3 linked regions of the Homo sapiens genome follow. The protein of the gene in region 1 interacts with the protein of each later gene in a pairwise test. Each region holds a gene or a part of one and is shown on either strand. Other genes may lie near its edges. The genes, in order: MAP6, RARG and RARB.

Region 1 (2,745 bases):
AGCAAAGGTTGGGGGTAGTGGGAGTGGTGCATGCAATCACAGGGCGCACTGTCTATGGAGAATTTAAAGCAATAAAGCTAAAAGCTGCCTGTAGTCCAGCTATTCAGGAGGCTGAGGTGGGAGGATCACTTGAGGTCAGGAGCTGGAGAACAGCCTAGGTGACATAGTGAGGCCCCGTCTCTACAAAAACAAATAACAAAAAACTAATAGCTGGCCTGCTTTTTATTATCACTATATGCTGCTCATTCTATACAATGTCAGTGATAAAATACTTTTCCCCTTGCAGGAGAGGGAGAGAGGGGCATTCCCACTGCTTCCTTTCCTGGTATGCCATGGACCCCTTGCCCCTTCTTGCAGCCAGCACTTAACAAGGGGGTCAGGGAGTCAGGGAGGCAAAAGAACTTTGAAGGCCCTGAGAACAAGAAAAGAGCACCCTGGCCTGTGGGGGCATCTGGTGGGCAGCTGAGATGGGGCTCCCAGGATGGGCCCAACGATCCTAGAAGAAAAAGTAGGGACCTGGATGGAATGTGGGGTGGACGGGCTGCTGGGATGCCTACTGGATGACTCCGAGTCCAGCTACAGTACTGCCATTGTCACCAGCGTGCCACCCCCTGTGCCACGTGCAGGTTATAATCAATTGGCAAGCACATTGAATGACTGATTCCTGAGCCTTCACCTCACCCCCCTCCCTCACCCCCGCCCACATTCTGTACTAAGAACACAGAAATCATATTCTCCTGGCTCTCCAGCAAGAGCTGCCCGGCCCAGGCTCCACTAGGCCAAGACTTATTAGGCAATCTGTACTCTGCCCTGTCCCTGCCTGAGCTCTACTCTCACAGTGATCACCTCTCTCTCCTTTGCAGGAGCCTGGCTCAACCCGTCAGTGATTCAAGTAAGACTCAAGGTCCTGTAGCCACAGAGCCAGACAAGGATCAAGGTTCTGTGGTCCCAGGCCTTCTGAAAGGTCAAGGTCCTATGGTGCAAGAGCCTCTGAAGAAGCAAGGTTCTGTGGTCCCAGGGCCTCCAAAGGATCTAGGTCCCATGATCCCATTACCAGTCAAGGATCAAGATCACACGGTCCCTGAGCCTTTAAAGAATGAAAGCCCTGTTATCTCAGCACCAGTCAAGGACCAAGGTCCCTCGGTCCCAGTTCCTCCAAAGAATCAAAGTCCTATGGTTCCAGCAAAAGTTAAGGATCAAGGCTCTGTGGTACCAGAGTCTCTAAAGGATCAAGGTCCTAGGATTCCTGAGCCTGTGAAGAATCAAGCTCCTATGGTCCCAGCACCTGTCAAGGATGAAGGTCCCATGGTCTCAGCATCTGTCAAGGATCAAGGTCCCATGGTCTCAGCACCTGTCAAGGATCAAGGTCCCATAGTCCCAGCACCTGTCAAGGGTGAAGGTCCCATAGTCCCAGCACCTGTCAAGGATGAAGGTCCCATGGTCTCAGCACCTATCAAGGATCAAGATCCCATGGTCCCAGAGCATCCGAAGGATGAAAGTGCCATGGCCACAGCACCCATAAAGAATCAAGGTTCCATGGTCTCTGAGCCTGTAAAGAATCAAGGTTTAGTGGTCTCAGGGCCAGTCAAGGATCAAGATGTTGTAGTCCCAGAGCATGCAAAGGTTCACGATTCTGCAGTTGTGGCACCTGTAAAGAATCAAGGTCCTGTGGTCCCCGAGTCCGTGAAGAATCAAGACCCCATTCTCCCAGTACTAGTTAAGGATCAAGGCCCCACAGTCCTACAGCCTCCAAAGAATCAAGGTCGTATAGTCCCTGAACCTCTGAAGAATCAAGTTCCTATAGTCCCAGTGCCTCTGAAGGATCAAGATCCTCTGGTGCCAGTACCAGCAAAGGACCAAGGTCCTGCAGTCCCTGAACCTCTGAAGACTCAAGGTCCCAGGGACCCTCAGCTACCTACTGTCTCACCTCTACCCCGAGTCATGATCCCAACTGCCCCCCATACGGAATACATTGAGAGCTCCCCTTGACACTCACCCCTTGACACACCAATGAAGGAGCTGACAGTGAGAGTGCTCCCCTCCCAGGGGCAGTGAAGACACATATTTAATCTGCATGAAACATGTACAGTAGTCTTGCTGGAATCTAATAAAAATGGTCCCTCTGGCTCAGCAATGTTTCTCTCTGTCTCTGTTGGGCAGGGGTGCATACATGTGTATAGGTGGGCCTGTCAGGCTCTGCATTCACCCGTCTGGACCAGAGGGGTCTGAGAAGCACCAGTTCCTGTGAGTTGTCAGCATGAGATGGGAGTGGGTAGGCGATGCTAGATGGAAACAGGACCCCATCACGGAGGTGGGCAGGATAAGGCAAGGGTCAGATACCATGACAGCCTCACAAGAGGTGCCAAATCCCAGCAGGCTGAGCCCTGGGTAGCTGAGTTGAAGCCTGCAGATGAAACAGGAGCAGGGACCCACCTGGCACAGGGGAATTCTGGATGACAGTTGTTTGCCAAGAGCTCAGCCTTAAAGCTCATCCAGGGGTCAAACTTCTTGAGGAAACCAGGCTCTGATCATAAGTCTCAGGACACTGTATAACCTAACACCTGCTAATCCTCATTCAATATCCATGACAGCTCAACTGAGAGCTTCTAAAGAATATACCTAGAGCCAGGCACAGTGGCTCACGCCTGTAATCCCAGCACTTCGGGAGGCTTAGGTGGGTGGATCACCTGAGGTCAGGAGTTCGAGACCAGCCTGGCCAACATGGTAAAAACCCTGTCTCTACTA
Region 2 (7,124 bases), on another chromosome or scaffold:
TCTCAGAGGTCAGGGAAGTGGGAGTGGCCAGAGGAAAGAGGGCCACAGCCATAGGGTAGGACCGAAGTGCTCCTGCCCAAGCCAAGGATGGCAGCCTACCTTCCTTGGACATGCCCACTTCGAAGCACTTCTGTAGCCGGCAGTACTGGCAGCGATTCCTGGTCACCTTGTTGATGATACAGTTTTTGTCGCGGTGACACGTGTACACCATGTTCTTCTGGATGCTTCGGCGAAAGAAGCCCTGGAGTTGAGGGAAAGAGAGAGGGCCTCTGAAGCACAATGCTGGGAGTACCAGCCTCTCACTGGCCTTGCAGGTTGCCCCAAGCCTGACCTAATCTATTAACCACCTATGTGCAAAGCAGTGCTGCTCAGACACAGCATCTGTGTGCCTGGTCTCTCATCTTACTAGGGTAACTGGATCCCCCGTCTGCCCACTCCCACCACGTACACACCTTGCAGCCTTCACAAGAGCTGACCCCATAGTGGTAGCCAGAGGACTTGTCATTGCACACGAAGCATGGCTTGTAGACCCGAGGAGGCGGAGGGGGCGAGGGCGAGCTGGGCACCATCTCCTCTGAGCTGGTGCTCTGTGTCTCCACCGCTGGGAGGGAAGCAGTGATGTGAGGGTCAGGGGAGAAGGACCCCACAGACCTCCAGGCTTCCTCATCACACACACCCCATGTGCATTTGTTCCTTGGCCCACTGGTGACAGCCATCACTACCACAGTGCACTAGTTCCAGCAGTAAGCACTGTCAGAATCCTCTTAATGACCACTATTACCACAGCTTGTTGTGACCCTAGTTCACCCTCTACCCTCCACAGTCTAACCAACTTGTTCACAAGAATGCCAGCCCTCATCCTATATGACATGTTTAATCCTCCAAATTCCAGACCAAGGCCATTCCGGAAATTGACTTCTCTGGGCCTGTTTCCCTAACTATCCAGGAGGTGGGTAGAAGAGTTAAAGCCCTGCAGCTCTGAGCTCTCTAGTCACTCTCTGTCTCTTTGGTATATCTTTGTCAGGTAGTCTACTTCCCACTGTCCTCCCTGTGGGGCAATAACTCTGGGGGCAGGTAGGCAATGACAGGCTTCCTGTAGCTGCTACTGGCCAAATGACCTGCTGGGATGCTTAGCAGGTAAACCAGGACCTCATTTCCTTTCCAGTAGTACAGGGGGGATAACTCCTCAGGCTTATCTCTCTCACACTACCCCTGAATAACCATCAGAGACAGTGGAGCAAATGGGGCAAAGGTCTCAGGGGAGTGAGTGAGAGGATGCACCACAGCCTTGGTTCACGCCTGAAGAAACTGAGGCCACGAGAGGGGAAGTGACCAGCTCAGTGCCACACCACCAGCAGATCCAAGTGGCTGTGAGTCAGAGAAGCTGGGGAAGCAGAGGCTGAGGTGTTTGCTCAGTTTCTCAGGTCTGGAAGCCGTTGGAGGTGTAGCAAACTGGAGAAGTCAGGTGACAGTAGGTAAACAGGACTGATGGGGGAGGGAACCTGTTTCTGGACCCTCTCTGAGCTTATGTCTTCACTCTGAAAATACCCAATTGCAGCTCAAAAGGGGTCTCAGCCCCACAGTATGGGGAGGACATGCTCTGCTCTGTTCAAAAGGCTGCTGGGTAAGTGTGTGTGTGTGTGTGTGTGCGCGCGCGCGCGCGCGCGCGTGTGGTTGGTCTTCAGAGGCTCGGAAAATTTGTAAATTATTCAACCTGTAGGACCTGTTGCCCAAACCTGGAGGGCCCAAGTTAATGCAAAAAAATTCCTAAGACCCTCCCTAAGGTGTGTCCCACGCACCCACCTCATGAACACCTTCTCCCTTCTAACCCTCTGCAGCCCACCTGGTCAGAAGCCCGCCCCAACGCAGCCAGAAGGGCGGAAGGAATGCCCAGGATGCCAGGGTTCCACGCTAGCTCCACCCACCCCACAGGAGGGAAGCCCTACCCACCCCCAACACACATACAATCAATTAGCATAAGAATCCTGCCAGAGTGAGATTACCCAAAGAAAAAGGAGAGAGGAGAGGGGGGAAAGAAGGGTGCCTGGAGTCTATTCAAGACTAGGGATGGGGGCTCCAGGAGGGGCTGGTGCTGAGAGATGTGAGGAGGGCTGGAACGCCTTTCCCAACCTCTCCTCACTCCTCAGACCCACCACTGTGTCCTCCAAGGGCACGTGTTCTGCCCAAGGCCTGTGCGTGGGGTGGTGCTCACTCTGGCACTGACGCCCTCCCTGCCCGCAGAGCGCTGCCTCATTTCCTCTCTTGCGCAAGGGCCTGGGTGCGGTCAGACTGGCATGGGGCAGTGCCAGCCAATTATAAGACTGGGGGCCTTAGGGAGACAGGCCCGGGGGCAACTTTTCCTGTCTAAGTGATACTGTCACATCCCCACCCCCTGAACCCTAAAGTGCAGCCTAGTGGCTCCGAGGTCAATCTGTGAGGTCAAGGCCCCAGAAAGCTAACTGGGTCTACTCCAATCAGATCCCCTCCCCAGACTCGGGCTTAGACCCCACCATTGGGATGCAGCTCCTGGGTTAGGCAGGGGCCCCTGCTGGGGAGGATGGGGGTGGGCTCTGGGGTTTTCTCCTTTTAAAGCCCAAATTGCTGAAATTGAGGAAATTCCTGACCAGGCTGCGCGGAGCTTCAAACAAACTCTTTATAACCGGCTGTAAACGCTCCCAGCTGCGAGGCTCAGAGCTGAGCAGCCTGGACTCACAATCTAGCACACACCTCCTTGGAGACACACACACTCACAGGTTAACAACACATAAGGCACCAAAGCAGGCATATTACAATGGGATCCTAGAACCCTCACTGGATTCTGGCACAGACACACAGCCAGAATAGAGACACACTCACTCCAGCTACACCGTGGAGGTAGATGTACCAGTCACAAGGCTGACACACAACAGCCAGCACTTGGCCACACAAGGGAACAGCCCTACCACCAGACAAACACCCCAGCCTGCCAACGCAGCACCAGGACACCAAAGCCTCCAAACAGGCACACACACACACACATCCAGCCCACCTCCACCCCCCAAGCACCCTTCCCTCTGAAAGTGTGTGCGGGCAGGCCTGAAGCTGGCTTTGTGTGTCCACCAGGATCCCAGAGGCCAAAATTATTGGTCCCAATTAAAACTCAAAAACCTAGGGCCAGTCAAGCCCAAAGGGCTTCTTCCATAGGCCTGAAAAAAGACAGGGTCTCTGCCCAGCCCCCAGAAGCCCTTCCTGAAAGATTCTTTCCATCTCAGCACCCCCACAACATATAACATACCCCAACTCCCCATCCTATTGGGCAATGAGAGGAAAGTTAAGAATTCACAGGGATTTGGTGCAAAGCAATAGTTCCATGCTTTCTCGGTTCTTTAAATGACACACTTTTAAATTCTTCCCCCACCCCACCCAAAAGTAAAGTCAAGTCCGGTCTCCTGGTTTGCCATCTCCCTCTTCCAGCTTCCCAGTTGTTAAATTTGAGCAGCTCTGCTCTGGAACCAAAAAAAAAAATCCGAACTTGTAAACAGCACTGCTTGGTGCCAAGGAGCGAGGCGCGTTGGCGGGGGCTTGGTGACCTGGCGTGCGCACTCCCCCAGCGCCCGCCGCCCCGCCCGCTGCCCGCCCCTTCCCACCCTTCCCAGCGTGCCCCCAAGCCCCTCATCCCCGGGCCGTCCGCACCCAGGCAGCGAGCACATCCCAGCCCAGGGTAAATTTGGGGGGTGTTCCAGGCTGCGCTCCTGGCCCCTCCCCACACCCCACCCCCGCCAGGCACTGCGGCCCAAGCTTCAAAGCCGCCTCTCATCTGGACTTCATTTTTACTGCCTCTCAGTCCCCAGCTTTTTATTACTGCTCTGGAAAGGGGTTCCAGGGCCCCAGGCCTGGCATCTCCCATTTCACGGAGGGGGAAGATAGATATTTGGGGACCCAGTAATGGTGCTCGCCCTGCCGCTGTCAACTTCAGGCCACCCCCCACCACACACACAGACTTTGCTTTAAACTTTTCGCTTCCTGCTGAAGTTGTTGTGTGTTGGAGCCATAGGAAAAAGTAATCTCTGCATATAACCGCATACACGTTTCCAAACATTTCTTTTTTTATATGGGGGTGGCGTACAAAACTCAGCCTTCTCCCTCTTGTGTGCACAACCTTTTCCACCCGGCATGAGAACACACAGGATGCACTCTCGAACACAGCACTTTCCAAAACCGCCCCCGCAGCCACGCAGGGGCACACGCCCTCCCGGCCTCACGCCACAAACATCCCCTCACAGGCCATGTGGACCTGGCAGCTGTCGCAGGCGACACTGGTGGAGAGACCCTTGCTCCCACACCCACACCACCTAGGCAAGGCGCTGCACACTCCAGGGATTCACACGCTCTGCAAACGATATTTTTAACACTGCCAGCTTCCCACATGGGCTTTACAAACGCCACCCACGGTCCTGAGTGTCATATCCTTCCAGGGCCACGGACGTGAAGGCGCAAACTACCCACACACCTCGGTCTCTCCCTATCCCCAGGAACTCTGGAGTGGCATCAACCACAGGTTCGAGCTAAACACCCACCATAAAAACCACACACACTCCAAACACTACTGCACACACGCAAAGGAGACGCTGAGGCCCCCACGTTTAAAGGGCCAGTACCTTACATAGAAAGGGCCAGAAGCTCCTCCTTGCACCTCAGTTCCACTCTTTACACACGGAAAGAGTAAATCCCACCCTCTCCTGCACCCTACACCCCAGCCCCGGACTCCGGTACCTACATTGCAGGCTGGCGGGTTGCGGCCAGGCAAAAGATTCAAGTCCGGCGAAACAGGAGCCGCCGGTGGCTCTGCGCAGCAAGCCGGCCCCGGGCCCGGCCGCCCCGTACAGCCGTCGCGGACCCGGGGCAAACGTTTCCATACAGTCGTACATCGCGACCCGGCTTGAAGGGAAACTGGGTGCTGGAAACACCAAGGACCCGCAGCCGATTCCCCCTCCTCCCCCGGCGGCGCCCCGCTCCAGCAGGGGGGGAGGGGGAGGGCTAGCATAGGGCGCTGGGCTGCATGCGGGTAAGGGGTGGGCGGGGAAGAGGGGGGATCCCCAGCAGGGGAAAGGGACTGGGCGGGGCGCGAAGCTGGGGCTGCCGCTTTAGCCTCCGTCCAGCTCTTATCTGGGTGCTTCGGCAGCTAGCACTGGGGAGACCTTTTTTAAAAGCGAAGCCTGGAGGGGTGGGGGGTGGGGCTTGGAGAGCGAAGGGGGCCGGGCACCGAGATGAGCAAAGCTGAGAGTGGAGCGCACACATACACATACGTACACTCGCTCCGCGGCGCGCGCGCTTGCTTAGACACACATCCGTGCATGCATTTATCTTATCAGGCACCAAGAATTTGCAAATATGCAAGAGTGAACATACATGTGAGCACGCATATAAAATCATAGGTGCACACACGTTTGTGCAAACACACCTTGCTCGGGAGAATGCTTGCAGGCATACTCTCCACAGCTCATAGGCTTTGCATGCATTTGCACTGAGGCGCGTGCCCAGGTCGGGGTTGGAAGAAGGAGAGGAGGAACCAAGCATAAGCATTTCCTTTCAGAGTTTTCCCTCTCCCCAAACTCTCCCTTTTTCACACTAGTCAATACAGGGGTGTTAAGGATGACTGGGGAGAGGGGAACGTGGAGGTCCCCGCGCGCAGCTGCTCTCCTGAGGCTCGGGACCTGCACTACCTCCACCCCTCTCATTCCCAGGCCTGGCTCCGCCCTCGCCCTCCGCGCGCCCGCTTCAGGGCCGAAAAGTGCATTCCTGCGGCTCGGCGCGCGCTGCCTCCTCCTTCCTTCCCGTCTCCCCACCCGCGGTCCTAGGGCCGGAGCGCGCTCCCGCCGTGAACTCTCTGGGAACCCCCCTCGGGGCGGGTGGCCGAGCGCGCTCACCTCCTCCTGACCCGGCCCCGCCCCACCCCGCCCAGGCCGTCTTCAGCGCTGCCGCGGAGTCCCCCCGCCCCCTCCAGCGCAGCCAGAGTCTACCCCTCCTAGCCCGAGCAGTCCGCCCTCCGCCGCGGCCCGGGCCGCCTCCCTCCGAGTCCCCGAAGCCTTATCCCGCAACTGACGCCCCCTAAGCGCCTCGACCGTCTCTCTCGATGCTCCTTCTTCGAACATAACTTCACTTTTAGAGCACAAAACTACCCCATAAGCTGTGCCTGCCGTGCCAACTGCGCCTCGATGAATCTGCCCCTGATGGCCAACTCCCCTCCTCCAGTTTCTCACTGCCAAGGGCTCCCTCGGCAATAGGGGCGCTTCTGGTCACTGACTGTTCTCAGGGTCTTTAAATACCCTCTAGCCTAGGCATAACTGCCCTCCCTTCGGTTAGTGCCCCTCAGCTCTCCAAGGCCGCAACACTGTTCCCTGGGTTGCCCCTTCCGGCACTGAGCGCCCTCGCCCGGCGGAGAAGGGGGTGAGGTGGGCGGGGGGCTGGCCACGTCAGAAGTTTGCCCTGGCCCGGCAGGGCCGAATGGGGGGACCCTGGCCCCGGACAGCGCCAGCAGCGGCGACTCCCGGAAATCCCCCCCTCCCCCGCGCCCCGCCCTCAGCCGCCGGGCCGCCCGGCCTGCCTGCCCAGCCGGCTCTGTCAGCGCCGCTCACACGGGCAGCGCCGCGGAGCGGGAGCGGCGCCCGGCCCGGCCCTTCCCCCGCCAGGCGGCTGTGGCTGGGCCAGGGCGGGGCGCGCTTTTCTAAGAATCTGTTGTACCGGGTGGGGGGCGCACTGGGGTGCTGCAGGAGTGGGGCGCCTGTTGGAAGAATAAAGGGCAGGAAGGGGTGCCAGAGTAGGCGAGGGATGGCGGGCGCGGGGGAGGGGCGGGGGGCTGCCGGGGCTGGGAAAAGGCCTGACTTGTGGATGGCGAGGAAACCTCGGGGTGGCAAGGCTGACTAGGGGGCTTGAAGCAGGGATGGAGAGGGAATGCACTGCTCTTTCCAACCCAGTGTAAACTCCCTTCTCCTCCCCCAACCCCAAATACCCATTTCTGAATCCAGTCACCCGAACCCCACAAAAAAAAGAAAGAAAGAGAGAGAAAGAAAAGAAAGAGAAAGAAAGAAGAAAGAAAAAGGAAGAAAGAGAAAGGAGGAGAAAGAAAGAGAGAGAGAGAGAGAGAA
Region 3 (7,124 bases), on another chromosome or scaffold:
ATAAAAGTGCTTGGGTGTCTGTTTTCATATTCATAGGTCGAGATCCGTACATCAGAGGTATTTGTATAAGTGACACTTTTATTACATTCATTTCATTTGCAATATGATAGTGGATCATAAATATGTTACTTTTATGCCACCAAATCTGATTTGTAGCACTTAGCCCCTCACAAGGAGAATACTTGATATTTTATGGAGCACCTTTCATCCAAGAAGCGCTTTGCAAACATCAGGCCGGGTTCTATCAGGTGTATAAATCACATCTGTGACCCCCTGAATGCCCCACCTGCTTCATCAACCTTCTGGCTACTACTGTAGGGGTGGAGAGCAGTTAGTGATTCCCCCGCAGACCCCAACATGATAGTGAGACCTTTAAGTTCTGGAAGAAAGAGGCTCAGGTGAACTCTGTATTGCCACATATAGGCCCTGACAGTGGACAGAACACCACATTTAGTTATATGTCTACCTTATCATTTGCAAAACAGTTTTGAGGCCCCCATCTGTGGGTCGGATCTTGTATTAAGCCCTGGGGACATAGAGACAAGTAACATGTGGCCCTTGCCTTTCAGATATTCACAGACTTGGAGGGGAGGGCTTTGATGCAGGCTTGACAGTGTTTGCTCCTCTCTTTGCCTCTCCATTCCCTCCCAGAGGTGCACCGTACCTGAAAGCAGCTTGTCAAACTCCCAGGTCTGGCATAGGTATATGAGTGCATATACCAGTCAGTCGCAATCAGAGTGAAAGAAGAGGTCCACCATCAAACATCCCAGGCAGCCTTGGAGCTGAGCATCAGATGCACACCCCACGCTCCCAGAGAAGAGAGTCATCTCCCCACCCACCATCCCATAGCATCCCTCAATTTACCCTCCCAATTCCCCAGCGTTAGCTTCCTAATCTAGGACCAGTAGGATCCCCCTGCCACACCCAGTAATACACAGGCACAGCTCCCTGTAGCATCCTTCATTGTACTCACTACGCTGTGGACTGTGTGTACATGGGGTAGACTCAGACGCAGCGGAGCACAGTGGGTTTCCTAAGTTCTGATCCTGACTGTATCACTCACAGGATGCATGGCCTCAGGCAGGGTACTCACCTTCCTGTGCCTCCACTTTCTCATCTGCAAAATGGGTATAATAGTGATATCTACTCTATTAGGTTGTTGTAAGGATTGAATGGCCTACCATGAATAGAAGGCTTTATGATAGTTGTAATGAACACTTTCAGTATTGTGGTAAATAATACTCTCGTATATTAATTGCAGTACATGTAATAATAGTGATGCCAATATTCTATTATTATTATTATTACTGTCACTGTTTTATTGTATGATGAATGTCTGTCTGCTACCATAAGTTTTTGCTCCATGGTAGCAACAACCATCCTGTTTTGCGATGGCACATAGTAGATACTCAATAAATATTCATTGAATGAATGAATGAACAAAACAATGAAGGAACAAATGAATCCACCCACTCATTTGGTGCCACTGCGATGGCTTCTCCAAGCACCATTTTTCATATCAGTCTCCTCTGCCACTGACAGCCACAGGCCCCACAGTAATCCCCACAAGTCCTTGGTGTTTAGGTCATCCATTTCCCCCACGGAAGGGCCTTACATTCTTCCTGCATAACTAACCCACATAGGCCTTTACAGTAGTCTACCTCCTTCCCACCAAGCCCACCATCTGTGTGTCTCCATGCAGGTGCTACTGCCATCTCGGGGGAGGCTCTGAAAGGAGCTGTCTCCTCTGGAGTTGACCCCAGGTGGTAAGTGGTGGAGCTAGCACTAGTTCCAGATCTCCTGACTTCCCCTGCAGTACTTGTATCGCCCTTGCCTCCCACTGCTGGCCTCCAGGGGAACGAGTCCCTGCACTGCCCCAGGAGCCACTGACCACGAGGCCTCAAAGGGACCAATAGTCCCAAGAACTTGGACAAAGCTACCATCCCTAGGCCCCCGTGGCTTCTTGTGCACTGTGTCACCTCCATGATTCTGGTGGTTCTTGGCAGCCCTTCTCAAACACTGCGTCTGCGTTCTTCTAGAGTTTAAAACCATTGAGGGAAGCAGCTGCTGAAGCCACGTGTTTAGAAAATTTGTCCGTCAACTTATGAAGCTGTATGTAATTGGGGCATCATCACCAGAGGGGTTGTCCCTGCATTTTGTGGGTGTGGAAGAATTTGTGATAATCCCAGGAGTCCTTTATTCACATAGACAGTGGTGGTGGGACTTCACGTAGGGGACAAAAGGAGTGTGGAAAGTAGCCTGAGGTTACACACTGCTCCCCTTCGAGTGAGCTGCAAAGGCTGCTCCAAATTGGGCCCAAAGCACAGAAAATGGTGCTCTGGCTTCACAGTTGTGATTTTGCAAACGGCGTGTGTGATCACTGCACAACCCAACAGAGATGCCCAACTTGGTGCCCAGCTGCAGCTCACCCAGGGCCCCTTCCCACAGGACCTCACCCCTCCCTTTCTTGCTTGGTTCAGTTACTTCATGGTGACAGCTCACAGTGTCTCCTCTCTCCTGGTAACCCTCTAGAGCTGGGTTTGCTCGTCTGAGTTTTCCAGGCCCCTGGTGGTGGATGGGGACAGTGAAGCAGAATGCTTAGGAGCAGACACAGGTCCTGCAGACTTCCCTGTGGATGGGATTATGGGGACTCCTTCTGTGGGTTGTTAGTTTGTTTTGTGGTTTCTCTTTCTGCACATTGGGTTGACTATTTTCAAACATGGTATTGTTGGGCCTCAAGTTCCTTGAGTGTAGAAATGGGGTCATAAGGCCCACCTCACCTGGCTTACTGTGGGGATTTCGCGAGCTAGGATTCTTCACCTGCTGATGCCCAGTGGCCCTTGCCACACAATCACTAAAGGGTAGTGAGGCTGCTGCTGTGTTTTAATGTAGCTGTAGGTGTCATCTCAGCTTCAGAATCGACTCAAACAGTTCCTGGTATTTAGCGATGTGTCACCTCCCACAGGGCTCTGGGTTTTTTGTTGGTGTTGTTTTGTGATATAATTCACGTAGCATAACATTCATCATTTTAAACTGTACCATTCAGCGGTGCGTAGTGGATCCACTAAGTTGTGCAGCCTTCACCAGTAAGTCCAGAACATTTTCATCTCCTAAAAAACAAAACCCTGAACCCGTTAGCACTCCCGATCCTCCCTCCCCACCAACTTGCCCCCGTACCTGACAGCCACGAGTCTACTTTTTGTCTTTGGATTGGCCTGTTCTGGACATCCATATAATTTAGAATCACACAATGTGTGGCCTTTTGCGACTGGCTTCTTTAAGGCGTATGTGTGAAAGCTTCATCTGTGTTGTAGTATGCATCCATAATTCATTCCTTTCTATGACAAATAATATTCCACCATAAGGACGTCCTAGATTCCACTTCCCCGTCATCGGGTGATGAACATTTGGGTTCTTTCCACTTTTCAACTGCCGTGAGTCACACTGTCATGAACATTCATGGACAAGTTTTGCATAGACACATATTTTCAGTTCTCTTGGGTGTACACCTAGGAGAGGAATTGCTGCGTCACATGGTACCTCTGCGTATAACTTTGAGAAAAACTGCCGAGTACTCTTCCTCGGGGCTCTGTTTCAGAAGGACCCTCCCTGCTTAGATTTGACTTTTTCACTAGCTAAGGAAGGCCATTGGCAGAGGCCGAGGAAAAGAGGGGGGTCTGATCACCTGAGATCCTGCGCACTCACACACAAGCCTTCAGGCATTCCCTCCCCTCAGCAGCCCAGACTCCATCCTCACGGAGAGCCACCATGCCGCCTCTGCCACCCTGCATGACCCCTTTCCCCCTCATTGTGTCTCCTTTGCCCGCCGGCTTCTTTGCATTCTCTCTGCTTTGAACCATGATACCCACTCTCACCCAGCGTCCTGCGCCGGCTGGGAGGGATCGGGTCACAGAGGTCTCGAGGGGCCAGTCTGCACTGGGAAAGAATACAGCTGAGGCTGCACTTCCCACTCATTTCACCAGTGATCTAGAAATTTTCTGAGCCAATGAGCAGTGTCATTTCAGAGTCCTGGGGGAAGGAAACTGTCTAGAAGGGTGTTCTCTTCAGACCTGTTGGTTTCCTTAGGAATAAGTAAGTGAGTCCAAGTGAGGAAGGAACTTCTCAACCACGTGAACTTGAGCATATTTCTTAGCTTCTCCAAGACTCAGTTTCTTCATCTGTAAAATGGGTTTAAACTTGCCTACCTGATAAAAGGATCAAGTGAGATACCGTGATACCATGTTCAAGGGACTCAAAAAAATGTTCCTGGTCTCCCCAGCTGCCCTCCCTCCTGGTTAGGTAGGAGTGGCTCGTACAGACACTGACTTTGTAGTAGGACTCACCTCCCTTTTTTCCTTTCTTCCCCCTTCTCACCCCTTGCTCTTTCCTTTCACCACTTCCTCTCTCCTCCTGCTATTGTCTTACTCTGCCCTCAGCTCCTACCCCAAATATGGGTATTCTCATGGTGTGGACCCAGGGAACTGCCAGTTCTCAAATCACCCGTGTGCTCTTAGGGAGGCAACTCAGGCCAGATCCTCTTAGGGCAGATCAGATTATGCCCTGGGTCATTTTGCAGTGCAGATTCCCAGGTCACAGTGGTGGCATGCACAGCCAGGCAGCATCCAGCCTGGCACCCGCTGGGCCCCAGAGAACATGGACTCCCTGGAGGGGGTGGCATGGTCTGTTTCGCCTGTCTGCCTCCCTGGGTTTCAGTTTCTTTCCTCGCGAGATCCTAGCCAGGGGCTAGAGCTTTGAGTTACACTCGGATTTGAAGTCATCCCAGAGGTCTGTGCTGCAGGAGGAAGCACGGGCTTCCATAGCACTGTGTCCTGGGCCCTGACTTTGTGCCTGGCACCGTGCTTGGCTCGGAGCATGCAGAGGGAAAGGACACACACCTGCTGTGGGTCCAGTGTTCCAGACACAACGTGGAGTCAAGTGGCTACCAGCGAATAAGGGAATGAATGGTTTTCCAGGCTGAAGATTTCATACTGTATCAATTATTATTTTTAAGTAATTTTATATTCCAAAACAGATAATATGGTTCATACAGAAAGTTTAGAAAGCAGAAAAACACGAAGGGACAAAAACCATCATCCTTATCTCCTCTCAGATGAGTTTCTTCAAAAGTGCCTGTCACTTAATTCAGAAAACTAAAAAGCAAAGACACCAAAATGTGTAGCTAGGAAATACTAATTATGAAGTAACGGGGCTTTGTTCAGAGACCTGACCCTTCCCTTACAATGTCACTCAGGGCATCCCATTTGAGGGTAAAGCTCTTGGAAAAATCCTTCTCTCTTCAAGAGATCCAGTCCACAGAAAAAGTTCTCTCACAACAAGCCAAGACTCTGAGCCTCCTGGGTGAGCCCAAGCTCTCCAAACAACTGACGGGCACATGCATATACAGAAAGACAAACCTAGCTCTCTGCCGGGGTCCCGCGGCTGCCAAATCCCTTTTCCAGGGAGGTGTGTTATTACCACCTCTTCCCACTGTTTCTGTCCCAAATATCAAATGAGCTTAAGGCAGCCTTGGGAGGTGGAACCTCCCAGCTCAGGAGCACAGGCCCAGCCTTCAGCGACCCCTGATGTGCCTTCTCTCTCGTTTCCAGCTGTCAGGAATGACAGGAACAAGAAAAAGAAGGAGACTTCGAAGCAAGAATGCACAGAGAGCTATGAAATGACAGCTGAGTTGGACGATCTCACAGAGAAGATCCGAAAAGCTCACCAGGAAACTTTCCCTTCACTCTGCCAGCTGGGTAAATACACCACGGTAAGAGATACTCCTGCCCCAGGCTGCTGGGAGTGTGGAAACCTTGTACGTGCATGTGTGCAGACACACACACACACACACACACACACACACACACACACACTTTGCACTGGGCCTGGCAGGGGCTTGCATGCTAGCCAGCTGGGGCTATGTAGTAGCCACTTCTTTCTGTGAGGTAGCCTTTGGGCGTGGGCAATCAGTGAGTAGGCTGAGTGCCGCCTCACTGCAGTCATGCACACATGCATTCACTCTAGATGCATTAACTGAGTATTTGCTATACGACAGGCTGTGTTCTAAGCCCTGGCAACATGAACTATTCAGTGCTGCTCTCAGAGACTTTGATCTGGTGAAGGAAACAAGTAAAGCCAGTGAAGCGTTACATGGGTCATGACGGACCTCTGTACGGAGGGACCCAGGGGGACGGGGCCTGATCTTTTAAAAACCCCAATCCATCTGTGAAATCCAACCAAGATAAAGAGGCCATCCCCTGGGCCAAGGTTTGCCTTCTGTGAGAGGACATGTACAAAACCCCCAAGCCAGGGCCTAGAAAAGTTTGGGGTAGGCATGCCCCATGCCCAGTTGAGTGAATGTTCCCCCTCTGCTTCCCAGCGTTCCACTAGGAATGGCCTTTCACTGAGATTGGAAATAAAGAGAGGCAGGAAAAAGAGAAGTGAGATAAAAAGGTAGGAGGTGTATGTTGGCTGGTCTAGGTTGTGCCAGTGGAGGGGTCATGAGGTGCTTTAATTTTTCCAAGTGGTTTTTGCATGTATTATGTTCACTGATGTATATTTCTAACTTGTGGCATGTAATAGACACTCAGTAGATATTTGATGAATTAATACAACTAGAATGTTGTTCTGGCCTCTTTAAAAAGCTTAGGTTGCTCACCTACAATGCTATGGTAAACATACTTTAAAAACAAAATCCAAATATTGTAGCACTTGCTGGCTTGGTGAATGGTGTTCTAGAAAAATGATAGCATGGGAGGTCCTGAAGATCAAAAGACAAAATAGTGATACCAGAAAGAAAAAAAAAAAACAGTGAGCGGCGGGGCTTTGGAGCAGTTCTTGGTGAGCATGGGGTGTAGTGCGCTAGGATGTTGGTGGTATCTGTAACACAATAATGGTGACCAGGAGCAGGCCCAGAGGGGCGCCCATGGAATCTGGGGCCAGCACAAACCTAGGTGGCTTCTCAGATGAAAATGAGACTACACAGTTGGGTGGCACCAGCTTCTGAAGGGCTGGCACCCACCTTAAACAGACAAGTCTCCTGGCTGAGCTCAGAGACTTTGGCTCACCTGGAAGCAGAGGTAGAACCTTGAGCAGTACTTTTCAAAACTCAGCGTGCATCTGAAGCA

Evidence for each region.
Region 2: the proteins of MAP6 (region 1) and RARG interact in a two-hybrid assay, tested with the Homo sapiens proteins (one study listed by BioGRID).
Region 3: the proteins of MAP6 (region 1) and RARB interact in a two-hybrid assay, tested with the Homo sapiens proteins (one study listed by BioGRID).

The regions. Positions count from the first base shown.
Region 1 is NC_000011.10:75,586,303-75,589,047, reverse strand, and holds the end of MAP6 (microtubule-associated protein 6), read left to right. Parts: intron 1-863; coding exon 864-1,989; 3' UTR 1,990-2,130; downstream 2,131-2,745. UniProt on the Homo sapiens protein: Involved in microtubule stabilization in many cell types, including neuronal cells. Specifically has microtubule cold stabilizing activity.
Region 2 is NC_000012.12:53,215,194-53,222,317, forward strand, and holds part of RARG (retinoic acid receptor gamma), read right to left. Parts: intron 5,170-7,124; exon of another isoform or gene 5,024-5,169; coding exon of another isoform or gene 4,757-5,023; intron 602-4,756; coding exon 453-601; intron 242-452; coding exon 100-241; intron 1-99.
Region 3 is NC_000003.12:25,564,152-25,571,275, forward strand, and holds part of RARB (retinoic acid receptor beta), read left to right. Parts: intron 1-5,606; coding exon 5,607-5,767; intron 5,768-7,124. UniProt on the Homo sapiens protein: Receptor for retinoic acid. Retinoic acid receptors bind as heterodimers to their target response elements in response to their ligands, all-trans or 9-cis retinoic acid, and regulate gene expression in various biological processes.